7 linked regions of the Homo sapiens genome follow. The protein of the gene in region 6 purifies or fractionates together with the protein of the main gene of each other region. This does not show direct contact. Each region holds a gene or a part of one and is shown on either strand. Other genes may lie near its edges.

The links.
Region 1: the proteins of NFYA (region 6) and TES purify together in Homo sapiens (affinity purification with mass spectrometry; 2 studies listed by BioGRID and IntAct, with this or other methods). This does not show direct contact.
Region 2: the proteins of NFYA (region 6) and FTO purify together in Homo sapiens (affinity purification with mass spectrometry; 2 studies listed by BioGRID and IntAct, with this or other methods). This does not show direct contact.
Region 3: the proteins of NFYA (region 6) and HMGCS1 purify together in Homo sapiens (affinity purification with mass spectrometry; 3 studies listed by BioGRID and IntAct, with this or other methods). This does not show direct contact.
Region 4: the proteins of NFYA (region 6) and ME1 purify together in Homo sapiens (affinity purification with mass spectrometry; 2 studies listed by BioGRID and IntAct, with this or other methods). This does not show direct contact.
Region 5: the proteins of NFYA (region 6) and SERPINB1 purify together in Homo sapiens (affinity purification with mass spectrometry; 2 studies listed by BioGRID and IntAct, with this or other methods). This does not show direct contact.
Region 7: the proteins of NFYA (region 6) and IRGQ purify together in Homo sapiens (affinity purification with mass spectrometry; 3 studies listed by BioGRID and IntAct, with this or other methods). This does not show direct contact.

What each region holds. Positions count from the first base shown.
Region 1 is NC_000007.14:116,252,039-116,255,538, reverse strand, and holds part of TES (testin), read right to left. Parts: intron 3,222-3,500; coding exon 3,063-3,221; intron 422-3,062; exon of another isoform or gene 1-421. UniProt on the Homo sapiens protein: Scaffold protein that may play a role in cell adhesion, cell spreading and in the reorganization of the actin cytoskeleton. Plays a role in the regulation of cell proliferation. May act as a tumor suppressor. Inhibits tumor cell growth.
Region 2 is NC_000016.10:54,113,156-54,116,655, forward strand, and holds part of FTO (alpha-ketoglutarate-dependent dioxygenase FTO), read left to right. Parts: 3' UTR 1-3,500.
Region 3 is NC_000005.10:43,289,413-43,292,912, forward strand, and holds part of HMGCS1 (hydroxymethylglutaryl-CoA synthase, cytoplasmic), read right to left. Parts: coding exon 3,436-3,500; intron 3,226-3,435; coding exon 3,062-3,225; intron 1,809-3,061; coding exon 1,719-1,808; 3' UTR 1-1,718. UniProt on the Homo sapiens protein: Catalyzes the condensation of acetyl-CoA with acetoacetyl-CoA to form HMG-CoA, which is converted by HMG-CoA reductase (HMGCR) into mevalonate, a precursor for cholesterol synthesis.
Region 4 is NC_000006.12:83,225,052-83,228,551, forward strand, and holds part of ME1 (NADP-dependent malic enzyme), read right to left. Parts: intron 2,427-3,500; coding exon 2,284-2,426; intron 1-2,283. UniProt on the Homo sapiens protein: Catalyzes the oxidative decarboxylation of (S)-malate in the presence of NADP(+) and divalent metal ions, and decarboxylation of oxaloacetate.
Region 5 is NC_000006.12:2,835,364-2,838,863, forward strand, and holds part of SERPINB1 (leukocyte elastase inhibitor), read right to left. Parts: intron 3,324-3,500; coding exon 3,186-3,323; intron 2,637-3,185; coding exon 2,519-2,636; intron 888-2,518; coding exon 745-887; intron 661-744; coding exon 493-660; intron 1-492.
Region 6 is NC_000006.12:41,079,474-41,082,973, forward strand, and holds part of NFYA (nuclear transcription factor Y subunit alpha), read left to right. Parts: intron 1-1,337; coding exon 1,338-1,424; intron 1,425-3,500. UniProt on the Homo sapiens protein: Component of the sequence-specific heterotrimeric transcription factor (NF-Y) which specifically recognizes a 5'-CCAAT-3' box motif found in the promoters of its target genes.
Region 7 is NC_000019.10:43,589,635-43,593,134, forward strand, and holds part of IRGQ (immunity-related GTPase family Q protein), read right to left. Parts: coding exon 2,392-3,500; 3' UTR 1-2,391. UniProt on the Homo sapiens protein: Autophagy receptor that specifically promotes clearance of misfolded MHC class I molecules by targeting them to the lysosome for degradation.

The sequences.
Region 1 (3,500 bases), on a different chromosome or scaffold from region 6:
GTACACATAAATGGTATAGAGAATTAAAGTCTGGGGTTTCATAAAATTTCATTTTACTAATAATTTGATTACCATTCATTCAAAATCTGACATGTAATCACAGGTCGAATCTACTGTTCCCTAATTCCTCAAAAATCTAAAATTGGCCCAGGCTGCGCCAAGGGCCTGGGGACTGCAGAACCCTTCAGGGAGATGATGTGCTTCACCACTTCCTGCCTGCCATTTGATCTTCCCATGTTCCTAAACCTTTAATATTTCAAAGAATTCTTATTTCCTTCAATCCCTCTTCTTATTTGTACACAGGATGTAAAAGAGCTAATGACACCTGTTGTAATGAGCTCTCTGCAGGAGTGTCCTATGAATCTGACGGATGTGAATTCTGGGGGTAACTATGGAGTTCTAGTGACTACACAGAGACAAAGTAGGTGCATCTGCCATGTTTTTTCCTTCCAGGTACTTTTTTTTTTTTTTCTCAGAAATGTTGTTTGGAGTTGAGCACTTGATTTCAGGTCTAAAAATAATTTGTATTTTCTCTCTTTAAGATGAAAAGATCTAAGCAGATCAATGCCCTGAACTAGATAACCTTCTCCAAATTTTATATAATGTAGCATGCTGTGTGGGTAGCTCTCTTTGCTGTTAGCTGGAATCTGTTCTGGCAATGGATATGTATGCTCATTTTAATATTAGGCAAAGGCCAATGGTATATCCCACTGAGAAAGTAAACATAAAAGAAATGATGCTACACACACACACACACACACACACACACACACACACACATATATATATATTTTTTTTGAGACGGAGTGTCGCACTATCAATCACCTGGGCTTGGGGTGCAGTGGCAGGATCTCGGCTCATTGCAACCTCCACCTCCCAGGTTCAAGCAATTCTCCTGCCTCAGCCTCCCAAGTAGCTGGAATTACAGGCACCTGCCACCACGCCCAGCTAATTTTTTTGTATTTTTAATAGAGACGGGGTTTCACCATGTTGGCCAGGCTGGTCTCGAACTCCTGACCTCATGATTCGCCCACCTTGGCCTCCCAAAGTGCTGGGATTACAGGCGTGAGCCACCATGCCTGGCCAAAATGATGCTATGCTATAAAACTAAATAATTTGAAAATTCTTTTATTTAAACAAATCATATCTGTGGTTATACCCTGCCATTGATTAGAAACAATGTAATACAGAGAAGCTTGTAACAGCTAAAAAAAGAAAAAAAAGCAGTTTCATCTGTTTCAATAAATTTTTATTGAGCACCTATGTTGTCCTAGTGTTGGGAACAGAATAGAAAAGGCAGATAAAAAAATCCCTGCCCTGATGGAGTTACATTCTAGTCCTTGAGACTAAAGGTCAGACAGCAGCAAAAAAAAAGGTATACATTATAATACCTTTAGTCTGTAGAAAAACTGTTGCAACAATATTCATTGAAGCAGTTTTTAGCTAAATAATGTATCAGGTTACATGGTGATTTGACGTCTTGTTCCCTAGGTAAAGGAATGACCATGGTAACCCCAAAGCGAGAAATATTAAGAACACGAGTCAGTCACTCAAACATTTTCTAAGTGCTGACACTGAAGATATAGAAAGCAAGATATAAGGCAAGCTCTACCCTCCAGCTGCTTACAGTCTAGTGAAGGAGACAGATGAATGATATTCACACACACACACACCCCCACACACCCACCCACACACACACCATTGGGAACATGGAGAGTCTGGAGGAAATGGTGGAGTTTGGGCATAGTGAATCAGGAAAGGTGTTCCGAAAAAAAGTTAAACCTAAACTGAATCTAAAGGAATAAATGTGTAGGTACAGTCAGGTAAAACAGGGAAAAGTACGGTGTATTAGAAAAACTATTAGGAGTAAGCAAAAGACAACAGTGTGTAAACTAGAAAATGATGGTGAACGTGTGGAAATGTATGATTTGCGTTGGATAACTAGTAGAAGGGACAGGAGAGGCAAGAAGGGGCCAGATCTATCAAAAGTTTAATAATTTGCATTTTAGGAAGATAATTTTCCATCATTATGGTGGGTAGCTTTTGAGCAAGATGAATGAAAGTGGAGGAACGAAATTTGAGGCCACTGCAATAGTCAAAATAACAACAAAAAAAAAGGTCTAAAGTAGAATGGTTGTAATTATAAGAATGTGAAATATATTGGTGAGGCACAGTTGATAGAGAATGAATAACTGTATCTGGGGCAATGGGTGAACGCTGAAAATTGGCATTGACATAAAAACTTGTTACCTTATCTTCACAGTACCACACTCTTATAACTATATATAACTATATAAACCATATGTAATTTCATTCCTTAGCCAGGAGTCCCTTTTACTTGATAGCTCAGGGGACCATTAACACATATGTGTTTTGCTGCATATAAAGAAGTAAATGTCTATTTGGATACTCCTGGATTATACACTTTACCATCTATGGTCAACTTTTTACCCTTTATCTACATTACCATCACTTGGCCATTATACAACAGCAGCTCTGTGTAAGCAGAGTAAATGCAAGAAAAAATATACTTTCACATTGGAATGTTTGGCCCACACAAAAATCTAAATACGCAGGCCAAGTTTTGTTATGCTAAATCAATTCAATGAGGGTTTAAGAAATAGGTATCTTACAATCTCCAGGTAGCAAAAACAAAATTCCAGTGGGTGGTCCAATAACACAAACAGAAAGCATCATATTCAAATAGAGCTAAAGAATATCAATAGCCCCTAGACACCTTTATTGAAATGGAATCTGATTGCTAACCATGAAAATAAAACAATCTCATTCCCATTAAGAATTTTTTTAAGTGAGGATTTTATTATTAAGCAGTACCTATAATTGATATTGTAAATTTCACAAGTAGAAATCTTGAGGTGGCTCATAGTCAATGCATGTATTGTTTTTGAATTGCCTTGATTTTAACACCCTGTGGTAGGAATAATTTGCTTTCTACTTAGGAGGACTGCTTTCTGTTTCCCATTTGTAAGAGGCTTTAAGAAAAGCATAAACTCAAGTCCTAAAGCAGGCTGAGGCAACCATATCCTTAGAACACTTCTCACCACAGCGTGATTCTTCACATAGCAGGGCTTGCACACGGGCTTGTCATTGACCATCACGTATATCTCCCCAGCTAGAATGCTATCACAGTCAAAGCAGCAGAAGTGTTTCAGGTGCCAATTCTGGTTTTCTGCCTGGGTATACTCATTGCTGAATATCAGCTAGGAAGAAGATAAAAATAAAGATGGATTTTTATATAATAAGAGATTTATATCTGTAACAACATACTTTCTCAGGGTCTAAAGTTTGAAAATGATAACCTAAAGCTTGAACTTATGCTATCACTTAGTTTAGTCTAAATCAATCTTTTATATTTCTAGTCTTTCATTTGTCAACCCAATTAACACAGACAGAATGAATGATATCAGAAGTTTATTTTTTAAAACTTCTTTGGATGTAAACAGAGCAACTGCTGTTTGGTCAAGTCTTGTTGCCTTCTA
Region 2 (3,500 bases), on a different chromosome or scaffold from region 6:
CCTGGATGTAGATGTTTTCCTCTCTCTTGCTGACCCCTCCGCCAGTTTTGTCTTGTGATGCCATTAACACATCTCTCCCTTTCTGACCTGGCTCCTGCCCATTGGTGTCCCAAGAAATCGTGAGAATAGTTAGCCCCCCGTCTCCCCAGCCTGTTGCTTTCTCGTGTAGTTGTTCACAGTAGTTGAGAAGTTGAAGAGCTTTTGCCTATTGAAGGTGCACTGAGAATAAACTCTTTCCTGCCACCAGAATTGCAGTGGTTCACGGCCTGCACTCATTCCCATGAATGCAGTTAATAGCCACAGAAATGTCACATTAAGCAAAGCAGCCAGGGTCTCATCGTGTTGAGACTCGAGTCTCTCAGACCTTGGATTCATTCCCTGGTGTCTTTGAGCCTCAGTTTCCTCATTGGTAAAAGAGAAGTGAAGCAGTGTCTCACAGGGTCATTACAGAGATTAAATGAAATAAATGAAATAACATAGACCAGGAGGGCGTGGTGTTTAAAAGTCACAGATGGGGCACCCTCGGGCCATCCAGCCCAGTGTTTTCTTTAGCCCCTATGATGTTCATTTTTTGTTATATCCCATTAGGTGCCCATATTTAAAAATTGGGAGATTTCACATAAAATTAAAAGGTCTGCATTTTCTTTTTTCTTTTCTTTTTTTTTTTTTTTGAGACACAGTCTCACTCTGTCACCAGGCTAGAGTGCAGTGGCACGATCTCAGCTCACTGCAACCTCTGCCTCCCAGGTTCAAGTAATTCTCCTGCCTCAGCCTCCCAAGTAGCTGGGACTACAGGCACGTGCCACCACGCCCAGCTAATTTTTGTATTTTTAGCAGAGATGGGGTTTCACCACATTGGCCAGGATGGTCTCGATCTCAACCTCGTGATCCACCCACCTCGGTCTCCCAAAGCGCTGGGATTACAGGCGTGAGCCACCGCGCCAAGCCAAGGTCTGCATTTTTCTTTAGAACTCAGAACACCCAATAGTCCTAGGCCCCCATCCTCGCATGGCAGCAAGCTAAATAAGCATCTTCCCACTGCGAGTTGGGGCATGACCCAGCCTATGGTTTGCCATACTCCCTCTTTTTCTCCGTTTTTTCATTAATTGTGAACCTGACCTGCATCACCCTTTCATGTCAGTGCTCTCCAAACCTGCTTGCTTGCACCCCTCTAGTCGAAATATTTTGTGCTTACCCCAATATATGTGTGTGACTATTGAACTCTATTCGTAGACTGCTTGTACTAATGTCATTTGCATCATAAAATATTCATATCCAATAAACATATTAAAAGGATGAGATAAGAAACCGAGAGATTTTGCTGTTTTTTTCCTTTTGCATGGATGAGCCAGCTTCACTGTCCTGGGTGGGGCCCAGGTGGAATTAGTTCTCAAAGTCCTCCAGGTGGAGTCAGGGAATGTGCAACAGGGTTGGAGAAATCACTACTTTAAGTGAATCCGAAAGGTGAGATCACATTTGCTCTAAAGAAATGGTGATCCCAGCACTTTGGGAGGCTGAGGCAGCAGATCACTGGAGGTCAGGAGTTCGAGACCAGCCTGGCCAACACGGTGAAACCCCGTCTCTACTGAAAACACAAAAATTAGCTGGGTGTGGTGGTGTGTGCCTGTAATCCCAGCTACTCGGGAGGCTGAGGCAGGCAAATCGCTTGGCCCGGGAGGCGGAGGTTGCAGTGAGCCGAGATCATGCCACTGCACTCCAGCCTGGGCCACGGAGCGAGAGAAGAAAGAAATGGTGACTTTCATTGATCATGTGTTTGAGGATTTCATGTGCTCTCCAGGGAGGTTTCAGGTGGGTAGAAGGAGGTGGGCAAGACCCAATAAAAAAGCAGCTGGTGCGGGCAATGACAATGAACTCGTATCCTGCAGGGTCAAAGGAAGGCTTGCTTCTGCTGTGAATTGGAGAAGGACTTTCCTGGAAGCACAGGCCCAGAAATCGCACCCTTCTCCCCATGTGTGCGGATAAGGGACCACTTCCATCAGCAGCAGCCCCCTCCTGCTTTCCTGCCAGTCCTCCCTGTGGTCCCAGGTCTCTTGAGAAAAGTGATCTAAGAGATCCCTTTGCAATGAGGTGCTACTGACTGCCCTACCTCCCTCCCTTCCTCCCATGAATGTTTCTTGGTGCTGACCACAGCCTCAGCAATGAGGCAAGCCTGGGGACCCAAGACAGATCTCTGCCTCCCAGGCTAGTGGATGCCCTGGGATATGTAGTCACCAAAATAGGAACTTACCCCATAGTGGGGAAATAGACAGTAAGCAGCAAATCAATAACAAGAGTGTTCCAGATGGTTGTAAGTGCCAGGAAGGGAACCAACTGGGAGAGGGACAAGAGGAGATGGTGACTGACCAAGGGGACCTTGATCAGGCTGTGGGGAAGGGAGGTGGTTGGGAAGAGCTTCCCAGGAAAGGGGACGGCGGGCCCAGGCAGGAGAGCCTTGGGAGGGGGTGCCCAAGGAAGGAAAAGGGCCCTGAGCCTGAAGCCGAGAAGACCAGGAGGGGAGAAGGGGAGATGTAGGGCAGAGCAGACGGGAGCCGCTCGGGTTTTATTCCACACACCCCAGGAAGCATGAGAGGGTTTCAAGCAGCAAGGGCATGGAAGTAACTTGGTGAGATATTTTTATGCATTAGATCATCGCTCTATCTGGATTCCAGAGGGTCTCTGAGAGAGCAAACAGCTTAATCCAAAGGAGCGGCTTTCCAACTGGGAATGTCCCCCTGGCTGGGTGAGATCTCAAGATGGCCTGCGGCCCCTCTAGATTGCCTGCCTACAGAGTTCACTCTAAACAGCCCCTCCCCTCCACACCCCAGCAGATCCATTCCTGACGCCCTCACTGGCAGGCTCCAGCCCCACAGAGCTTTCTAGACATAAAAGAGCAGGGTCATGGCATCATTGGTGACACAATTTTAGTAATAAGCTTCAAAACCCATCACTCCACTGAATCCAGGGATGCCAGAATTGAGAGTCCATAGGACCCGTTTAACGGATCCCACATTCAGTAGACGGTTTTTTGTATGCTTCGAGGGAAGGAAGGTATTTTCAAATGCAACTTCTTTTTTTTTTTTCTTGCTCTAGTTAGGGCTGATTTTACCACTGGGCAAATTGCATACATTTGGATCCATGCCACGCTAAAAACTGTTTATTTTGGAGATCTGTCAGAGGCAAGCACATGGAAGACAAGGGGATTCTGGTTTGAAAAGGCAATTCTCATCCAGACAGATTCAGATGGAGAGGAGCGGTGTGGATTAAAATGCGCCGAAGTGGTAATGCCGTTTATCCCGTTTGCCTTTGTTACTCTGTGATTAAATGGTATTTTTAATTAAGTTTCATTGGGAGCCATAGGTATCGCGGTGGTGAAATCAATTTGACAACCATAAAGGGGAGAGACGGCACAGGCGTGTTGTGATGATTGCGGCTGTAGGGAAAGCCGGGCAGCTTGCAGAGGATGGGTGGGAGGAGGGGAAGCCGGCTAAGAATGACTTCCT
Region 3 (3,500 bases), on a different chromosome or scaffold from region 6:
CTTTATTTCAAAGTTATTCACCTCACCGTTAATAAGGTGTATGATTAATGCTCTGTGCCAGTATTTGCAGGCCTGCCCATTGCCGGCAATGGACTTTGAGAAAACCCATTTCCTGGCACCCAAAAGTTAAATTACTCTTTTCAAAACATACCGATCTCCCCAACACTTGCAAAAGTATTACATGCACCATTTTGCCACCATTCTTTAAATCAGAACTTACATTATTAATCTACATCAGTGAATGTTAAATGAAGTCATTTTAACAAATTATGACTGTACAAATCAAAATACTACTAGTTAATATTAGACAAGAGTATCTTACAAACACTACTATTACATATTACCTTGCAATCTGAAACATTATATTTCATATTTGTGTATATTTATTTTAGATAACTGAAACTTCACAGAATTTAACAGCAAATAAAGTTTAAAAAATTTAGTTCTGTACATTAGTTCCAACTATCCCTATTTTACAATCTATAAGGCTCATGTCATAGTTCAGCACCAAAAAGATCTACACAAAACTGTTTAACCAATCTTCTTATCTATCCTGTGTGATAGTTTTGTTTGTTGTTGTTTTTTAAGGTAAAAGTCCTACTTCAGACCTTGAAGTGGAATACTTCTAGTCAGACTAGGTAAAAACTTGGGTCATACCTTATTTTCATTGAACAGATACCAAAAAAAAAAAAAAAAGGAAAAGGAAAAGAGCTGTGTTACACCATGAATTTAGGTTGTCAGCCTCTATGTTGAATTTATAACACTGAAGCATCAGAAATAGCCTAATAATGCCCTGCCCCTATTCTTCCCTTCCATTTTAAATTTTTAAAAAAGTAACCAGAAAAATGTTTCATTTATTCTTTAAAATAAGGTGCAAAGAAGGACTGCAACAACAAACTCCCTCATCCACACCTCCAATAACATCTCACTGTTGTTCAGCATAATCTACCATGAACTGATTCAGGAGCACACCTAGAGCTATATTCACAGCTCCTGAATGTACCATGTTTTCTATACCAGAAGCCTCTTCAATGGCAGTGTTTCTCTGTTCAGAGGTCATTACAATAACTTTTGTCACTGCTGGCCTGGACTTAACATTCCAGATTCCAGAGCCAGTGTTTTATTGTCCCAGCTCTTTTCTTCCTCTTTAGGATTTATCAATTTTAGAAAAAGGGCATGTTTGTTTTGCTATTTTCAAAGGGTTTGTGCGTATCACATTTTACCACATTTTACCCCAATTTTACCACACTGGGGAATGTTGTCACATTCCCCAAGCTAGAAATGTTTTCCAAAAACCACAGGTACTTTCTGTAATCTTGTTGTTCAAAGTACAAAATTCTTACATGTTAAAAAATTTTTTAATTGGAGATTAGTACCTCTGCTTTCTTCTGACAGAAGTACACAATTCATTATACCATGTTTAAAAACCAAACATCATGCATACAAATGGCCAAAGAGGTATGAAGTTTTACAGAGCCCTTAACATCATTCGAGTACATTTGGCATTGGCCAGACCACAACAGGAAGCATGTCAGCAAATAGAGCAAAGAGACTTTCCCAAGTACACGATAGTCATCCAGGCTCCATGTCAGTCACATAAAAATTTACATAACATGTAATCCTTTAAAATTATCCCCAGATATCCCATTCCTCCAACTGTTCCCATACCCCCACCCCATGCCCACCCCACCCTGAAGTCTTGCACCTCACAGAGTATCTTAATGTTCCCCATTACTAATGACAGCTGCTTCAGGTTCTGCTGCTGTGGCAGGGAGTCTTGGTACTTTCTTGGCAGGGCTTGGAATATGCTAAAATGAAAGGAAAAAAGTTGATGGCTCTTATGATTCTTTCCCCCACAAGAATCATGGCACCAATTAAAGTTTCTGTAAAGAAACTTAATAAAGGACAACTCTGGAGAAGTTTATGCTAAATATATATTTTATATAACTTTTCATGAAGGGAACTCAATATCCATTTTTCACCTTATGGTGAATTTAGTATACAATTATCCATATGGGGGGGAGAGGAAGCCTGCCACAGAGACCCACCACGTAACAGTATTTTACTTGTTACGTCTTGTATTTGCAACTCAAACAGTGGCGGTTTGACTTGCTACCTAATTTGTATAATAGCAAAAAGCAAGACTATCCATTTACCAAACTTGTAGTAAGCAGATAAATAAGTAGTTTCAAGGTTATAAAGTCCTTAGTTTATAACCTGGCTTTAATACTTACTACCTATAATCCTGGGCAAGTAATGTAACTTCTTGGAGGCTCATCTCTAAAGGGAGGACAGTATCATTTATAAACTTCAAGGAGGTTGTTGTAAGGATTAAATAAGAAAACGTAAGTAAAGTGCCTAGCAGGTAACAGGAATTCAAATCATAGCTATGATTGTTACTTCTTGACAATTTGAGGACAGATTTTGACCATGATCTGGGATGAGATGTGAAAGGATCCTTGTCCCTCTACTCCATCTCTCACAAAGACACACACCACAAATGAACCTTCTCTCTATATCAGTCTTCCTTTAAATCCTGGTATCATTAATAAAACCTAGTATTTACTGTATATTCTTTTTTTTTTTTTTTTTTTTTTTTGAGATGGAATCTTGCTCTGTCGCCAGGCTGGAGTGCAGTGGTGTGATCTCAGCTTACTGCAACCTCTGACTCCCTGGTTCAAGCCATTCTCCTGACTCAGCCTCCTGAGTAGCTGGAATTACAGGCACGTGCCACCAAGCCCAACTAATTTTTGTATTTTTAGTAGAGACAGGGTTTCACCATGTTGGACAGGATGGTCTTGATCTCCTGACCTCGTGATCTGCCTGCCTCAGTCTCCCAAAGTGCTGGGATTACAGGCGTGAGCCACCGCACCCGGCCTTTACTGTATATTCTTAAAATATTAATAATTCAAATGCAAAGCACTTTATACAATTGGAAATAGTACAGCTAGAATCTACTCCCAGAGCCCTTACTCTTCTTTACTGACATTTATTTATGTTGCTAAATCCCAGTTAGGTCTCCTAAACCCTAAGATATGGAGATGGGAACTCTTTTATTTACCTCAGTTGCTATGTTTGAATGCACAAGTCCTACTCCTTCATCCAAAGTGTCATCATTTGGAGTGGGACGCCGAGCGTAAGTTCTTCTGTGCTTTTCATCCACCCTAACTAAGTACCACGTTCCTTCAAAGAGTGAATCTATTGAACCCTGGGGAATATAGTTGACTAAAGGAAAGGGAGAGAATATCTACAATTAGTTATGATATACAATTCATCTGGTAATAAAGCTAAAGATAAGTTTCATATATCCCAATAATTTTCACTGACATCAGATTAGTACTGAGTAAAGTCTTGATATCCTTATCGTATATGTAGCATCCTTAATGATATCAGCCCTCCAAATGGGTTAACTTAAAGAACATTTAATATTTTTACCCAAATGATGGGTGTCCTCTCTGAGCTTCATGTTTTCAGCGAAGACATCTGGTGCCACACCAGTT
Region 4 (3,500 bases), about 42 Mb from region 6:
ATTAGCTGGGTGTGGTGGTGGGCACCTGTAATCCCAGCTACTCAGGAAGCTGAGGCAGGAGAACTGCTTGAAACTGGGAGGCGGAGGTTGCAGTGAGCCGAGATCGTGCCATTCATTGCACTCCAGCCTGGGTGACAGAGCGAGACTCCATCTCAAAAAAAAAAAAAAAAAAAAAAAAAGGCATTAACTAGGGCCTGTTAGGTGCTGCATTTCATATTGCTAATCAAAAGAACATTTGTCTGTGATGGTGAGAGTGGACATCTAGTTGAGAGTATTTAGGCTTCAAAGTAGGAATCAGAAACCCTAAACAAATAAAGCATCACAGTCTAAGAAATCTATTTGAAAAGTCTAAAGCATCAAATCCCCAAGGCATAGTTTAAACGATGACAGAATGGGTTTTAACTTTCATATCTCTTGGATCTAGAGTCTAAATAATGATATTAATATTAACCTATTTTTAGCAAATGTCATAATATACCTTTTAGTTGTTCTTAAAGTTGTATAACAGAAATTCAACCTTCTTTGAGAGACAAAAAGATGAAAATAGATGAGGCAGAAAAACAAATTCTCATCTAGCTGTTTATAAGACACTGTTATGTTTTGCACAGAATTCGGTTTTGTTTTCAGACAAGTCTGATACCTTAAGCTCTTTAGCAGATAAAACATTTTGTTATAAACAACTTTCTAATGTAACTAAATTATTACTTCATATATAAAGGTTTTGGAAAATTATATTTGAGAAAGAGGCCTGTAACATTATATATATATATATATATATATATATATCTCCCCCACTCCTGCACTCCCACTCTTCCTGCCTTTCTATAATCACCATATTTTAAGGAGAAATGTCATTAAATAAATGACAGTACTGTAGCTAGCTAAATATTCTCATATATATATGTTATTAACATGGTGAAGGGAACCTTCCCATACCATTTTTAGATTATATTTTTATGGTTCAATAGTCTTTCTGTATATTGTAACTTAACCTTTCCTATCTTCACCTGTGCCTACAGTAGCAGAAACTCACATCCAGCAACAGGCAGACCTTTCCTTTTTCTCCAATCCTTTAGCCAAACCAGTGTCTAAATTTTCATCCTCAAAATAACTTTCAATGTTTTATGTAGAAAAACATAGAACATTAGGCAAGATGATAAGAAAGAGTTGAGGCATACATTTATATCAGACACATTCAAAGTTTAAAATACAACTACATAAATTTGGCTAATTTTGTTTATGTGTGTTATAGATAAGTCTCTTAACCCTTGAGGCCTGTTGAGATATATTAAGACAAAATAATTAATTAAACACTTGTTTATTATATGCCTAGTAGGTGCAAGGCATGATGCTAAGACTTGGTTGTTGCTGAAAGGACTTTTTTTTCCTTTAAGGATTTAAGGACTACTGAATAATGTGAGGCAAATTCCCCAATCTAGAGATGAGATAAAAATTAAAATCAGTGAGAACACTGATGCCATCCCAAATAAGAGAGATAAACAATGGAGTGGCTCCTTGCCAAAAAGAAAAATCACTAATTCTAGTATTGAGCATTTAAGGATATATGATTAAAATAGAGCCATTAAGTTCCAGTTAATGCAGAGTGACATAGCGTTCATGTTTACCTCTCTAGTTCATTTTGGATTTCTTTCCAAAATAAACATTTTAGATAGATATGACTCAACCTCTATTTTGTTGTAATGATATTTTAAAGTCTTTGAAGGGAAAAAAGGCTCCTTTCAGCATATCAGCCAAATACATATTAGTACAAACATGGTATAAAATAAATCATAGTAAAATGTTGAAGCATTGAGGACTCCTATCCCAGTCTGGCTGGATGTCAAGATAGTTGCCCAAATGTTCCACCCATAGTACCAAAACCCAAACCCAGGATTTAGCAAAGCAAAAATAAGGTTGTGGTTTTACATTGTATGCTTCAGTGTTTGGGAATAGCTAGTTAAAAGCTATTTTAATAAGCCTCTAGAACCAAGCTGCTTCCTTTCTATTTAACTTTTATGTTTAAATCTTAGATATCTATTTCCAAATCACTTGTGGAAAATTATCAGTAAAACATTAAAATATGTATTTTATTTTGTTGAAGAAGAGGATTTATACAACATTCTAGAAAAGGAAATAGTTCTTATCCCTCTGATTTGTGTGCTTTTCTTTCCATTTTGGTTGTATAATTTTTAAACTTAAACAGTAAGCACCTTAGATATCCTAGGCCTCCCTATAATGAATAAAAATTTGATTATTAAAATATCTGTTATAGTTTTACTTTACCTTGGTTATTTTGTAGCACTGCTCTGCAGAACATTCTGCTTTGCTAGTTGGATTACTCAAAGCAAAAATAATAGGCCGTTCATTGAAGGCAGCCATATCTTTGAGAATTTGTTCTGAGAATGCACCACCAATTGCAGCAACTCCTAATGAAGAAATATGAAGCTGGTAATTAACACTATCATTGGTTAATTCACACAAGAAGACCATGCCTCAAATCAATGATATCTATCAGCTCATTTTCTAATAGACCCTAAACAAAATGCTATATAAACTATTTGTATTCAAGTATAGTGACAAAAAGAGGCAAGTTTGTTAATGCCAACAATCCTTACAATCCTTAGGGTCACAAATCTACAAATATCTATTAAAAACTAAAGATAATATTTGGCTTCCATAGTACATTGAGTTAGTTACCAATCACTTGGAAATTTGTATCTAATGTGTAAACTTTCTTTATAAGCAATTCTATGAGTATATTTCAGTCTTGTCAGGCTACAAAGCAATTAAGTTTTATAAACCAACGCTATCACTTAAGACAACCATCTGATTCATCTGCAAAAGTAAAGTACCACCCACTGAAGTAACTTTAACAGAAGAATAAAGCAATTAGCATAATGGAAATGAAAAACAATAAGATTATTGACAGAATATATTTTGTAAAAACAATATTAAACACTTAGTAAAGTTCCTGTCATGGAGTAAGTACTTCTTTTATTGTAGTTATCATCATTATTTTCAACGTTGTCATCTGTTTCACAAGAGCTTGTAGGAATGGAGTATAATACAAGGTAAAAATCAAAATTATATATGCACAAAATAAAGAATAAAGTTTCATAAATTCCTTTGAGTTTTCTAAAACCACTTTAAAGTCTTGCACTGCACATGCATTGTGTAAGTACTGTATTAAGTGCTATAAGGAAAATAAAGATTTGTGAGATGTGATCCCTGTCTTCCAGGAGGGTCTTATCTACTGCAGTATTTCTCAACCTCAGCACTATTGACATTTTAGGCTGGATAATTCCTTGTCGCAGGGGCTGTCCAGTGCACTACAGGATATTTAGTAGAATCATTCCGCTGCCTCTATCTGCTAGATGTCAGTAGCCCCTCCCTTTACTCCCTTCCAACCCCGCTACCCTAGTTAAGACAACTCAAAGCTTCCAGACATTGCCAAATGTTTCCTGCAGGGCAAAAATCCCTCTTATTTGAGAACCACTGTC
Region 5 (3,500 bases), about 38 Mb from region 6:
TATTTGGGGCTTTTCAATCTTTTTCCTCAGTAAAACAATCCTCATCTTACTGTAATTTCCTCTAAAGCTAATTCAAGAGCCTTTCCATGAGCTGCCACTAACCAGTATTATATTTAGTATAGATCTTTAATGACCCCATCACAAGTGTCCACTGAAAGTAGCTGGCCATCTTTCTTGAAAAATGAAACGTTAGCCGGGCACAGTGGCTCACAGCTATAGTCCCAGCTACTCAGAAGGCTGAGGCAGGAGGATTGCTGGAAGCCAGGAGGTCAAGACCAGCCTAAACAACATAGTGAGACCTTGTCTCTATAAGTAAATTTAAAAAAAAATTAACTCTGGGCTTTAGTGTAGTAAGTGTTGATGGGCTACATTTACAAAGGAATGACAAACTACTGGAAAATGCACCATCAGTGAACACTTAACAAGCACCTACCTACCATGCGACACACACATGCAAGAGGAACCACAAAGCATGAAGCCCAGGAGCCATACCTTCTTCAGGCCCGTGGACTCGTCCTCAATGTCATCCGGCAGCAGGATGACCATGCTGAGCTCCTCGCCTTGGTAAGGCAGTTCCAGCACACGGCACTTAAGGTCCTCGATGTAGCCATATGCAAATTTTTTCTTCTGATACATCATTTTCACAGTTTTTCTGTCTTTCTGAACAGTTTTAAAAAATCACTGAAATTATTCTCTGCATTCTTTTAGAGCAATGCATGACTCTGTACAGTTACCTCACCTCACCTTATTCAATCTGAATGGTGCATTCGTCGTGGCTTCTTTCATGAATTTATCCTTCCAGTTTCCCTTGAAATAGATGGCATTTACTAGCACAAGTTTGGTCATGTTATCAACCATGCCCGAAGCCAACAGTTCCGGAATTTTTCCTAAAAAAAAATCAAGTTAGCGTAAAAAAAATCCAAATCGGAATTCCAAATTTGAACTGACAATATATTAGCACGGAAATGCAATTCAAATATATAATTTCTACTTAATTTTCATTTAACAAGATATTAACTTAGGAAAGCCCTACTCACTAACATGTCTCTACTTTAAGTATAACAACCTGTGGGGCAGACAGACCAGGATGACACACAAACTTCCCACAAGGACCTGACATTTTAAACAAGTCAAATGTGCCGAAAGACAAAAGACAGGAAAATTCTCCTTTTCTGGACTGTATGATAAACAATGAGCCTTATTTTGTAACAACCATTCTTTTTTAGAAAAAAAAAATTCTTAATGAAGATATCTTTAGTCATCAGTAAATCACTTCTTCAAATCGCTGAGTAGATGCCTACTCTCACAAAAAAAGGTTTAAACAATATCCAAAAGGCAGAACAAGACCAAGCATGGTGGCGCACACCTGCAGTCCCAGTGCTTTGGGAGGTGGAGATGAGAAGATTCCTTGAGCCCAGGAGGTCAAGGCTGCAGTGAGCCACGATCGCACCACTGCACTCAAGCCTGGGCGACAGAGCAAGACTCTGTCTCTTAAAAACAAAAAACAAACAAACAAACAAAAAAACCAGCAGAACATACTCCATGGAAATAAAGGTCACCTTCGTGACCATAAGTATGGCTGGGAACAATTCCCATAATGGAAGACAGGTCTTCTGGAGTGGGTTGACTAATACAGGGCTATGTAAGAAGAGAGATGTAGCAAAGAAATAAATTGCACCCTAAAAGCAAGTCAGTCCCCACCTACCACAACTTTTTTACTGGACAAGATGTTGGCAAAAAATTTACAACCACAGTAGTTTGTGAATATTGATTTCAGGTATTTCCATGAAATTCCAGGACATTTCTTTCCATATGAGTATTAGGTAATTTTTGGCAGGCTGAATTCTCCTCAAAATTTTAATTCCTTTTTTGCTGTATTCAGTGTTGGTTTTAACTTTATTTTTTATTTTTTATTATTTTTATTATTTTTTTTACGACGGAGTCTCGCTCTGTTGCCTAGGCTGGAGTACAGTGGCATGATCTCGGCTCACTGTAACCTTTACCTCCTGTGTTCGAGAGATTCTCCTGCCTCAGCCTCCAGAGTAGCTGGGATTACAGGTGTGTGCTACCACACCTGGCTAAATTTTTTGTATTTTTAGTAGAGACAGGGTTTCATCATGTTGGCCAAGCTGGTCTTGAACTCCTGACCTCAAATGATCCGCCCGCCTTGGGCTCCCAAAGTGCTGGGATTACAGGCATGAGCCACCGCGCCTGCCAATGTTGGTTTTAACTTTGAAATGCAACTTTAAAAGTTTTGGGGAGCTGATGAGAAAAAAGGATTTAGCTGCTTGAGTTAAATCATGTTTAAGTTTCCACTCTGGTGAACTTCGAACATGTGAGAGCTGTCCAGCAACGTGCAGTGCAGACTTCACGCACCGGCAGCGTCCTCTGACTGTAACCACGATGTGCGCCAGGACTGTGGGAGCTGGGGAGGGAATAACTGCAGGTAGGGAAGGCGGACTGAGGAAACGAATGACATGACCAGCGCATAATGATTCCATTCTGCCCAGGCTCTCACCTTCTGTCTGTCCTTTGACCCACTGGTTTATGGTCTTCCTTGCATCTTCAGAGGCATGCTGAAAATCCACACTGGCCAGGTCAGCACCATATGTTTTCTGAGTCGAAACCAAGAACTCCTATTAAAAAAAAGGAAAAGGAAATATATATATAACTCCTACTACATATAGAAATTGTTTTCTAAAATCCCAAAAAGCAACAGAAATTGTCCTAAAAGGCTACAATTCCATGTAACACAAAATTTCTAACTCTTATAGTTTTTCTTATAGTAGTAAAAATCATTTAACATTAAATTTACGATCTTAGCCACTTTTAACTGTGCATTCCAGTAGTGGTAAGCCTAACCCTTATACTGTTGTTGTTATATAGAAATTACCACTCTTTTCTGAACTTTGACTAAGATTTCACAAACACTGATTGTACTCTTGCTTCAGTAAAACCTCCAAGAGCTATCTTTTCACTAAAAAGACTGTAACACAAAATCACCATGTCAATTAAAGTTTGCATTCTGTCGTGTTTGCCTTCCATATTGTTTTTGCCATGTTTGCCTTCTGTATTGTTTTTCTGAAAGTTTACAAATATTAAAACTGACCTCCATGACTTGATTGTGCTGGAAAATATCTGCACTGTCTAGTGGGGTTTTAGAATGTGAAGGGCAAAGTACTTACAGGAAGGAAATTGTAAGTTTTCTCTCCATATAATCTATTAGCAAGTTTCAGAATATAAGACGCTCCACGTTTGTTGATATCAGCATTCAGACTCTGGAATCTTGAATGAACCTCTTCAACCGTGTTGAAATGGAAAGTCTAAAATAAAGAAAATCTTCTTTCTACAACCATTTATTTTGAAACTATAAAGTGATTCCTTGGTGTTTCCTTCTATCACATTAAATTAATGTGTTTTTATTACTAATTATTGATGATCCCAAACCCAATACTTTATTAATTTGTCATTGCAGAACAAACAATAGGAAATCCAAAATT
Region 6 (3,500 bases):
TTGAGCTAACTTGTGATTTAGTAAGTCTTTGGCCACAACAGACAAACCAACATAGCTTCCAATAAATCTTCTGTTTTTTGATTTGGTCTGCCACATTTTTTATTCAGAAAAGCTCTGGTTTAACATTAGGATAATATTTAGACAGCCATTCTTATGGATAAGACATACTAGAAAGGAATTCCCTGCTGCTGGTTTATTCCTAATTAATAGATTGCTTTCTTGAATTTATACACAGGTTACATTTTCTGATGCTTTATGCTTGGGTTTATTATAGTAAAATTTCACTTTTTTCCCCACCCCAGAAGAAAAAAATGTATTATGTTTCTATTTGACCTTAGGCCAAGATTGATATTTTGGAAATACTTTGTTTTCAAAATGGAATTTAGCTAATATAGAAAAGTAGTAGGGAAGGGAAAGGTAGTATTGATGATGAGTTTTTCCCGTCTAATGATCAAAGACGAACTCCCCTGATAGCTTTCCCTTCCATACAGCTGCTGTGGCTCTGGCAGTTTCCTTCAACTGCCTTTTTAGAGGAAGGGATTCCACAAAGGGCCCTCCATTCACACCAGTGCCCTGGAGGGTGGGTTTTTATTCTTTCAGAATTTGCCATTAGTGGATGTAAAAATAAGGTTGAATCATTGAAAACATGGCTCTTAAAGCAGTCCAGTTGGGTAGAAATAATCTTAGTTTTGAAGCTGGGCATGGTGCTGCATGCCTGTAATCCCAGCTACTCTGGAGGCTGAGACAGGAAGGTTGGCTTAAGCCCAGGAATTCAAGACCAGCCTGGGCAAAACAGCAAGACCCCATCTCAAAATAAGTACATAAATAAAGTTTAAAAAAAAAAGAATCTTAGTTTTGGGACATGAGAGCATTGACGTCATGAAGATGATTTCGGTTCATAGTGATTAATTACTCCTCCTTTCTTGGTGATTGCATTTAAGCCCAGAATTTTTTATGGTAGTTTCAGGGCTATTAAAACCTAATCATTTTTTTCTTGTGAACTCATCTGAGGAGATAAAAAGGGCATTAAACAATTGTGTAAGTAGAAGTGTCAGATTCCTGTTTCTGGAGGGAAAGATTGCATTACAAATCTTTGTGTTAATGATGACAACTGTTTTGAGTTTTTGAGTCAAATTTTTGAGGTCCACTCTGGAGACAAAGGGCTAATATCTTTAATCCTACTACCTTCAACAAAACAGCTTCAATATAGGGAGTCTGTACATTTTGAAAGTCCTTCAGGCTTCCGTCTCTCTCCTCCAAGAGGTAAGGTGATCTGTGTCTTGAACTACACATTTCCTTCCTGACATATTTCAAGCTCTTCCTGTTCCTGTTCTCAGCAGCAGGGTGGTGTCACTGCTGTGCAGTTGCAGACTGAGGCCCAGGTGGCATCCGCCTCAGGCCAGCAAGTCCAGACCCTCCAGGTAGTGGTACCCTCTCTGATTCTCTGTGAGCACTGCATGAACTTCTCCTCTCCTCATGTCTGGTGCTGTTTGTGTTAGGATCTCCAGTAGGAATGGCAAAGTCAGTTGCATGTCTTTGATGCTGCTAACTTGTCTTTGAGGCTTATAAGATGCCAGTTTCCTAATATTTCATGCCAAGTCATATAGAGACCCCGTATCAACTTTCTGAGAATTGGATTTGACTAGCATGTTTCTTTGAGAATGCCTGGAAAAGAAATGGTATAAGTGACAGGAAGAAATTCTTATAAGTGACATTAGAATTTATTCAGGGCTCGGCCGGGCGCGGTGGCTCACGCCTGTAATCCCAGCACTTTGGGAGGCCGAGGCAGGCGGATCACGAGGTCAGGAGATCGAGACCATCCTGGCAAACATGGTGAAACCCTGTCTCTACTAAAAATACAAAAAAATTAGCCGGGCATGGTGGCGGGCACCTGTAGTCCCAGCTACTTGGGAGGCTGGAGCAGGAGAATGGCGTGAACCCAGGAGGCAGAGCTTGCAGTGAGCAGAGATTGCGCCACTGCACTCCAGCCTGGGTGACAGAGCGAGACTCCGTCTCAAAAAAAAAAAAAAGAATTTATTCAGGGCTCACACTCTGATCCAATTAATTGCATGGTAAAAATTTTGTGTATTTGTGTTACAATGGAGAAGGAAATATATACATATACAGACACACATAAACTAGGCTAGGCTGTGCTTTATTTTTATTCAAGGGGCAACTCAACTGAAAAATAATCATTGCACTTGGCAAGGTTTATCTAAGCACTGAATCTTGTTAATCTCTTGTTAACTGCTATTGTTTCCACTACCTTTCCTGGGGGAATAGTGACCTGTCTTATTACTAGATCTGCAAAGATTACCCCAGATACCTCTTGGTTAGGCAGAAGCAGGATGTGCTTTCTGTAAGTCTTAGGTGTTAAAGCCACTGTGATAATTCTTGGTTAATCAATACAGTTCTTTAGCATCGTGTATGGCTAAGTATCCTAAATTGGGTTCTAATTTGGCCAGTTCCTATAAAACACAGGAGTAGCAGCACTAGTCTACTCTGTGTATGTAGGTTACTTTTATTAAAATAACTCTATTTTTGAGAAATTGGCAAGATTTGGGTACCCTACTTTTTCCCTCCATTGAATTAGAAATGATTCAAAGTAGAATCTAGAATGTAGAACTGGCATCTCACTTTATTGCTAGTGCTGCTAAGCATCCAGCAGATAACTACCTCTTATTGTCATCACTTTATCCTTTCAATCCCACCCCTACCCCTGCCACCAATAGTGTTTGGTAATGATGTACAGCCAACTTTGAACATAAATTAAGCCGAAAGAAACTGAGCTTGTAGGCATTCCAAAATTGTGTTCAAATCTCACAGTCCAACAGCTTGTTAATGTTTTTCATGCTTGCTTCATCTTACTCATATATAAAACAGTATTTTGGATTGTCATTAACCCCTTGTGGAATAGGAATGTAACATGCTCTTAACTGTATGGCTTCTTGTTTGATGCATGTGTCTTTGTAACATTTTTCTGTTGTAAATACAGTGAGCTCTTTGGAGTCTCAAATCATTTATCATGTGCACGAATAGCACATCAATTGGGGAGGAAATTAAGATGATGAATAGATAGAAAATTATTAATAGCTGTATCTTAAAACTTGTGTTTCCTACTTACATAGATTTTATTTAAAAGAAGTGGAAACACTTTATGGAAATAATAGAAACCTTTCCTCTAGGGATCTGATTATTTTGGGAGAATTTTAAATAGTTATTTTGGTTATTCTTGCTATATGTATTCTGAGAAATCTTTCTTGATACAGAATATGCAAGCATTTGGTGTAGCAAAGGGGATTTGATTTGGAATGGGGAAATAAGGGAAAGAGATAGCATGAGAGAGTCAGGCTGTAAAGTCCTTAAAAAAGTAAAGTAAAGGTTCTCAATGGACAGTTTAACAAAACTTAGGATTTCAATGTTCCTGGTGATTCTAATACATTAGTGGTGGTGGCAGTGGCGGCGGTGGTGGTGGTGATTGTAGGAGGACCTTACTATCT
Region 7 (3,500 bases), on a different chromosome or scaffold from region 6:
TGTTCTAGATGCTGGGGAAACAACAGAGAACAGGACAGGCAACGGGTCAAAAGCCAATAAACAGGTAAATAAATAAGATCATTTTTGACAGTAATAATTGCTACAAGGAAACTCAACTGGCCGAAATGAATAGTGGGGGAATGTGAGCTACTTCAGATAGGGTGGTCAGGGAGGGGAAGTCCTCTCTGAGGGGATACGTGAGCTGAGATCTGACTGAGCCCGTCACAGGAAGGTTTGAGAGTAGAACAGGAAGTTGTGAGTAGAGCCTTGAAGGAAAGAGAACAGCAGGTGCATGGGTCCCCAGGCAGGACTCAAGGTAGCCACTCAGGCATCAGAAAGAGTCAGGCGGCCATGATGGCTCACACCTGTAATCCCAGCACTTTGGGAGTCTGAGTCGGGTGGATCACCTGAGGTCAGGAGTTCGAGACCAGCCTGACCAACAGGGTGAAATCCCTTCTCTACTAAACTACAAAAATTAGCCAGGTGTGGTGGCACATGCCTGTCATCTCAGCTACAGTCATCACATCCCTGTACTCCAGACTGGGTGACAAGGTGAGACTCCATTTCAAAAAAAAAAAGAAGGAAAGTCTATCAGGCTGGACAGGAGTGGGAAGGGGCAGTGAATGAGAATAGGCAAGGGCCAGACCCACAGGGCCTTACTGTGTGCTGTTGGGCCTCAAGCCTGCCCTCTCTGGACTTTGCTCTTTCTGTCTACGACAAAAGGGATTCTATCGCTTGGATTCTCAGATCCTCCTTTTCTGTTTTTGACACTGAAGAATTCTGTAACCTGCAACTTTTCCCCCACATGTGGCTAGCAGCCTAGAACATTCCAGGCACTGTGGTTTCTGCCTTTGCTTCATTCACTCCTGGCATATTCCCATGGTCTCAAGTGCCTGACCACCCATTTGGTGGGCCCCTGGCTCAATGCAGCACCCTCTATGTACATCAGAAAGCAGAGCCTCTTGGGGATACCCGAGGTGTCCATACAGAAGTGTTTGGACCAGTGCAGCAGTACAGCTGCTCTTCTGAAAAGGAAGGTGCACAAAACACCAAGGCCATAAAGGGTTATGGTTAAATACCAGGAGAAAAAGGCCAAAAAAAGATAGAAACTCCTAAAGAAAAGAGACAGAGAAACAGACTCCCCAGAGATCACCTGAATTGCTCAGCACCTAGAAGATGAAGGCAGTCATATCCCTTCCCAGTCACACTCACAGAGGCAGTTGCCGGGATCCCAATACAAGGTTTGGAGGAGCTGTCTCTGAGGTATGCTTTACTGCCCTTCCACACCCAAAAGACCTCATTCCTGGTCCCTGGCTACTCCCAGAGCCCACCATGCCCAGACCTCTTACCCACCTCACCTCATTTTTGTGGGACCACCCTCCCTACATGCTTTTGGAGGGCAATTATAGAAACCCATCCACTCCCCAGGAGAGATCAAGAAGTCTCCAGCTTTCTCGCACAAGCCCCCGATCCCTCCTCCAGATGCAGACCTCCCCTTACCCAATATTTAGGAACCAAGGTCCACAGCCATCTTAGAACCCCGGAAGTCTCAGACCCCAGGGGCCTCCGCCACCCCATCAAGATTCAAAGCCCACTGCTCCTTGGGGACCTGTGTGCAGGCTTTTTCTCCCAGAGAAATGTAGACCCTGTTTCCCTCTGAGGCTCTGAAGCCCAAGAGTTCCAGCTCCCTGGGGCGCTCAGGTCTCCCTCCCCTATACTGGAGTTCAGGTCCCAGTCATGGACACCTCCCCACCAATTAGGAAACAGGACTTCTACCAGCCTCCCTGGAGGACTAAACATCCAGTAACTCCAGTTTCTACTCCCTAGGAGACAAAGACATAGTCCCTGCTAGAGTCTGGGCCACCAACTCCCTTCAGGACAGAAGGGTCTAGATGTCATTCACCATGGTTCCCAAAGGTATCAGGATTCCTGGCCAGGGGCGGTGGCTCACGCCTGTAATCCTAGCACTTTGGGAGGCCGGAGCGGGTCGATCGCCTGAGGTCAGGAGTTCGAGGCCAGCCTGGCCAACATGGTGAAACCCCGTCTCTACTAAAAATACAAAAATTAGCCAGGTGTGGTGGCAGGCACCTGTAATCCCAGCTACTCCGGACGCTGAGGCAGGAGAATCGCTTGAACCCGGGAGGCGGAGGTTGCAGTGAGCCGAGGTCGCGCCATTGCACTCCAGCCTGGGCAACAAGAGACTTCGTCTCACAAAAAAAAGAAAAAAAAAAAAAAAAATCAGGATTCCTGTCCCCCAGACTCTCTGAATCCAGGTGATAAGAAGTCACACATCCCAGCTGGAAGTCAAGAGTCCACATCCCCTTCAAGCACCCAGGATTAAGCCCAGGCATCCCCTGTCAGAGTCTGGACTCCCAAGCCCCCTCCCACTCCTCACTGGGCAGGCTCAGGGGGTGCCAGCACAGCCTCAGCATCAGCCCGCATCTCATCGAGAGCCTGCAGCAGGACGCCGTGAGCCGCTCGGTAGCCCAGGCCACCTGTCGCCGCTGCACCACCCGCAGGCCACAGGAAGGAGAGAGCCCCCAGTGCTGCGCCCCCAGCAGTGCCCTCGCCCGCCCAGGCGCCCAGTCTTGCTTCCACCTCGGCGCGCGTCACCGGGCCTGGGAAATGAGCGCGCGCTGCCAGCTCTCCAGAAGCCAGGCCCAGGGCACGCTCACGTCGAGCCAGTGCCGTGGGTTCCAGCCCCAGGCCCCGTCGCCACTCCGCCAGCTGACCCCGCAGAAGTGCCACGTCGCATGCCCAGCCCAGCCCTGGGAGTGGTGCCGCCGCCGCCGCCAGACTAGCCAGCAGAGCTGGCCTCCACGCCCCGGCTCGCAACGCCGCAGCCTTGGTTCGGGCAGCGCTGGGAGATGCTGGTGGCAACGCCAGCAGCAGTGCCCCTGCCTGGGCTGGGGGGAGCGCTCGCCGCAGCCATTCGCATAGCCCTGGGAGTCCGCCAGGCCGTAGGGGGAACACTGGCGGCGGCGCCTCCTCCAGCACCTCCCACGTCTCGTCCTCCGGGCTTAACGCAGCGGCCCGCTCTGAGTCGCCACCACCTGATTTCTTCATGCCGACAACCTGCTGCAAACCCTCGCTGCCAGCTTTCCCAGGACCTTCCCCGCTGCCTGCTTTCTGCGATCCAGCGCTACATTTCTCCCTTCCCTTACTGAGTGCATTCTCCAATCCCCCTCCACCTGCGTTCTTTAAGCTCTCGCCCTTGGGATTCTCCATCTTGCCTTCTCCCAGACACTCCGGATCCTCGCCCTCGCCGTCTGTGCGCACGCAGACAAGAGGCGCATCTGGTAGCAGCAAGGCCTGGACCTGGGCCCAGTCCTTCTCAGTGGGGGCCCCAGGGGTGACGAGGATGAGGGCGTCGTAGTGCGTTGGGTGAGAGGCGGCGGCCGCGGTGGTGGCAGTGCCCGTGTGGCCCAGAGGCACGGTCCAGAGCACCACATTCGGGCGCTCTGGGGCTGGGAAGGGAGTGGGTGCTGTGGGGACCGAAG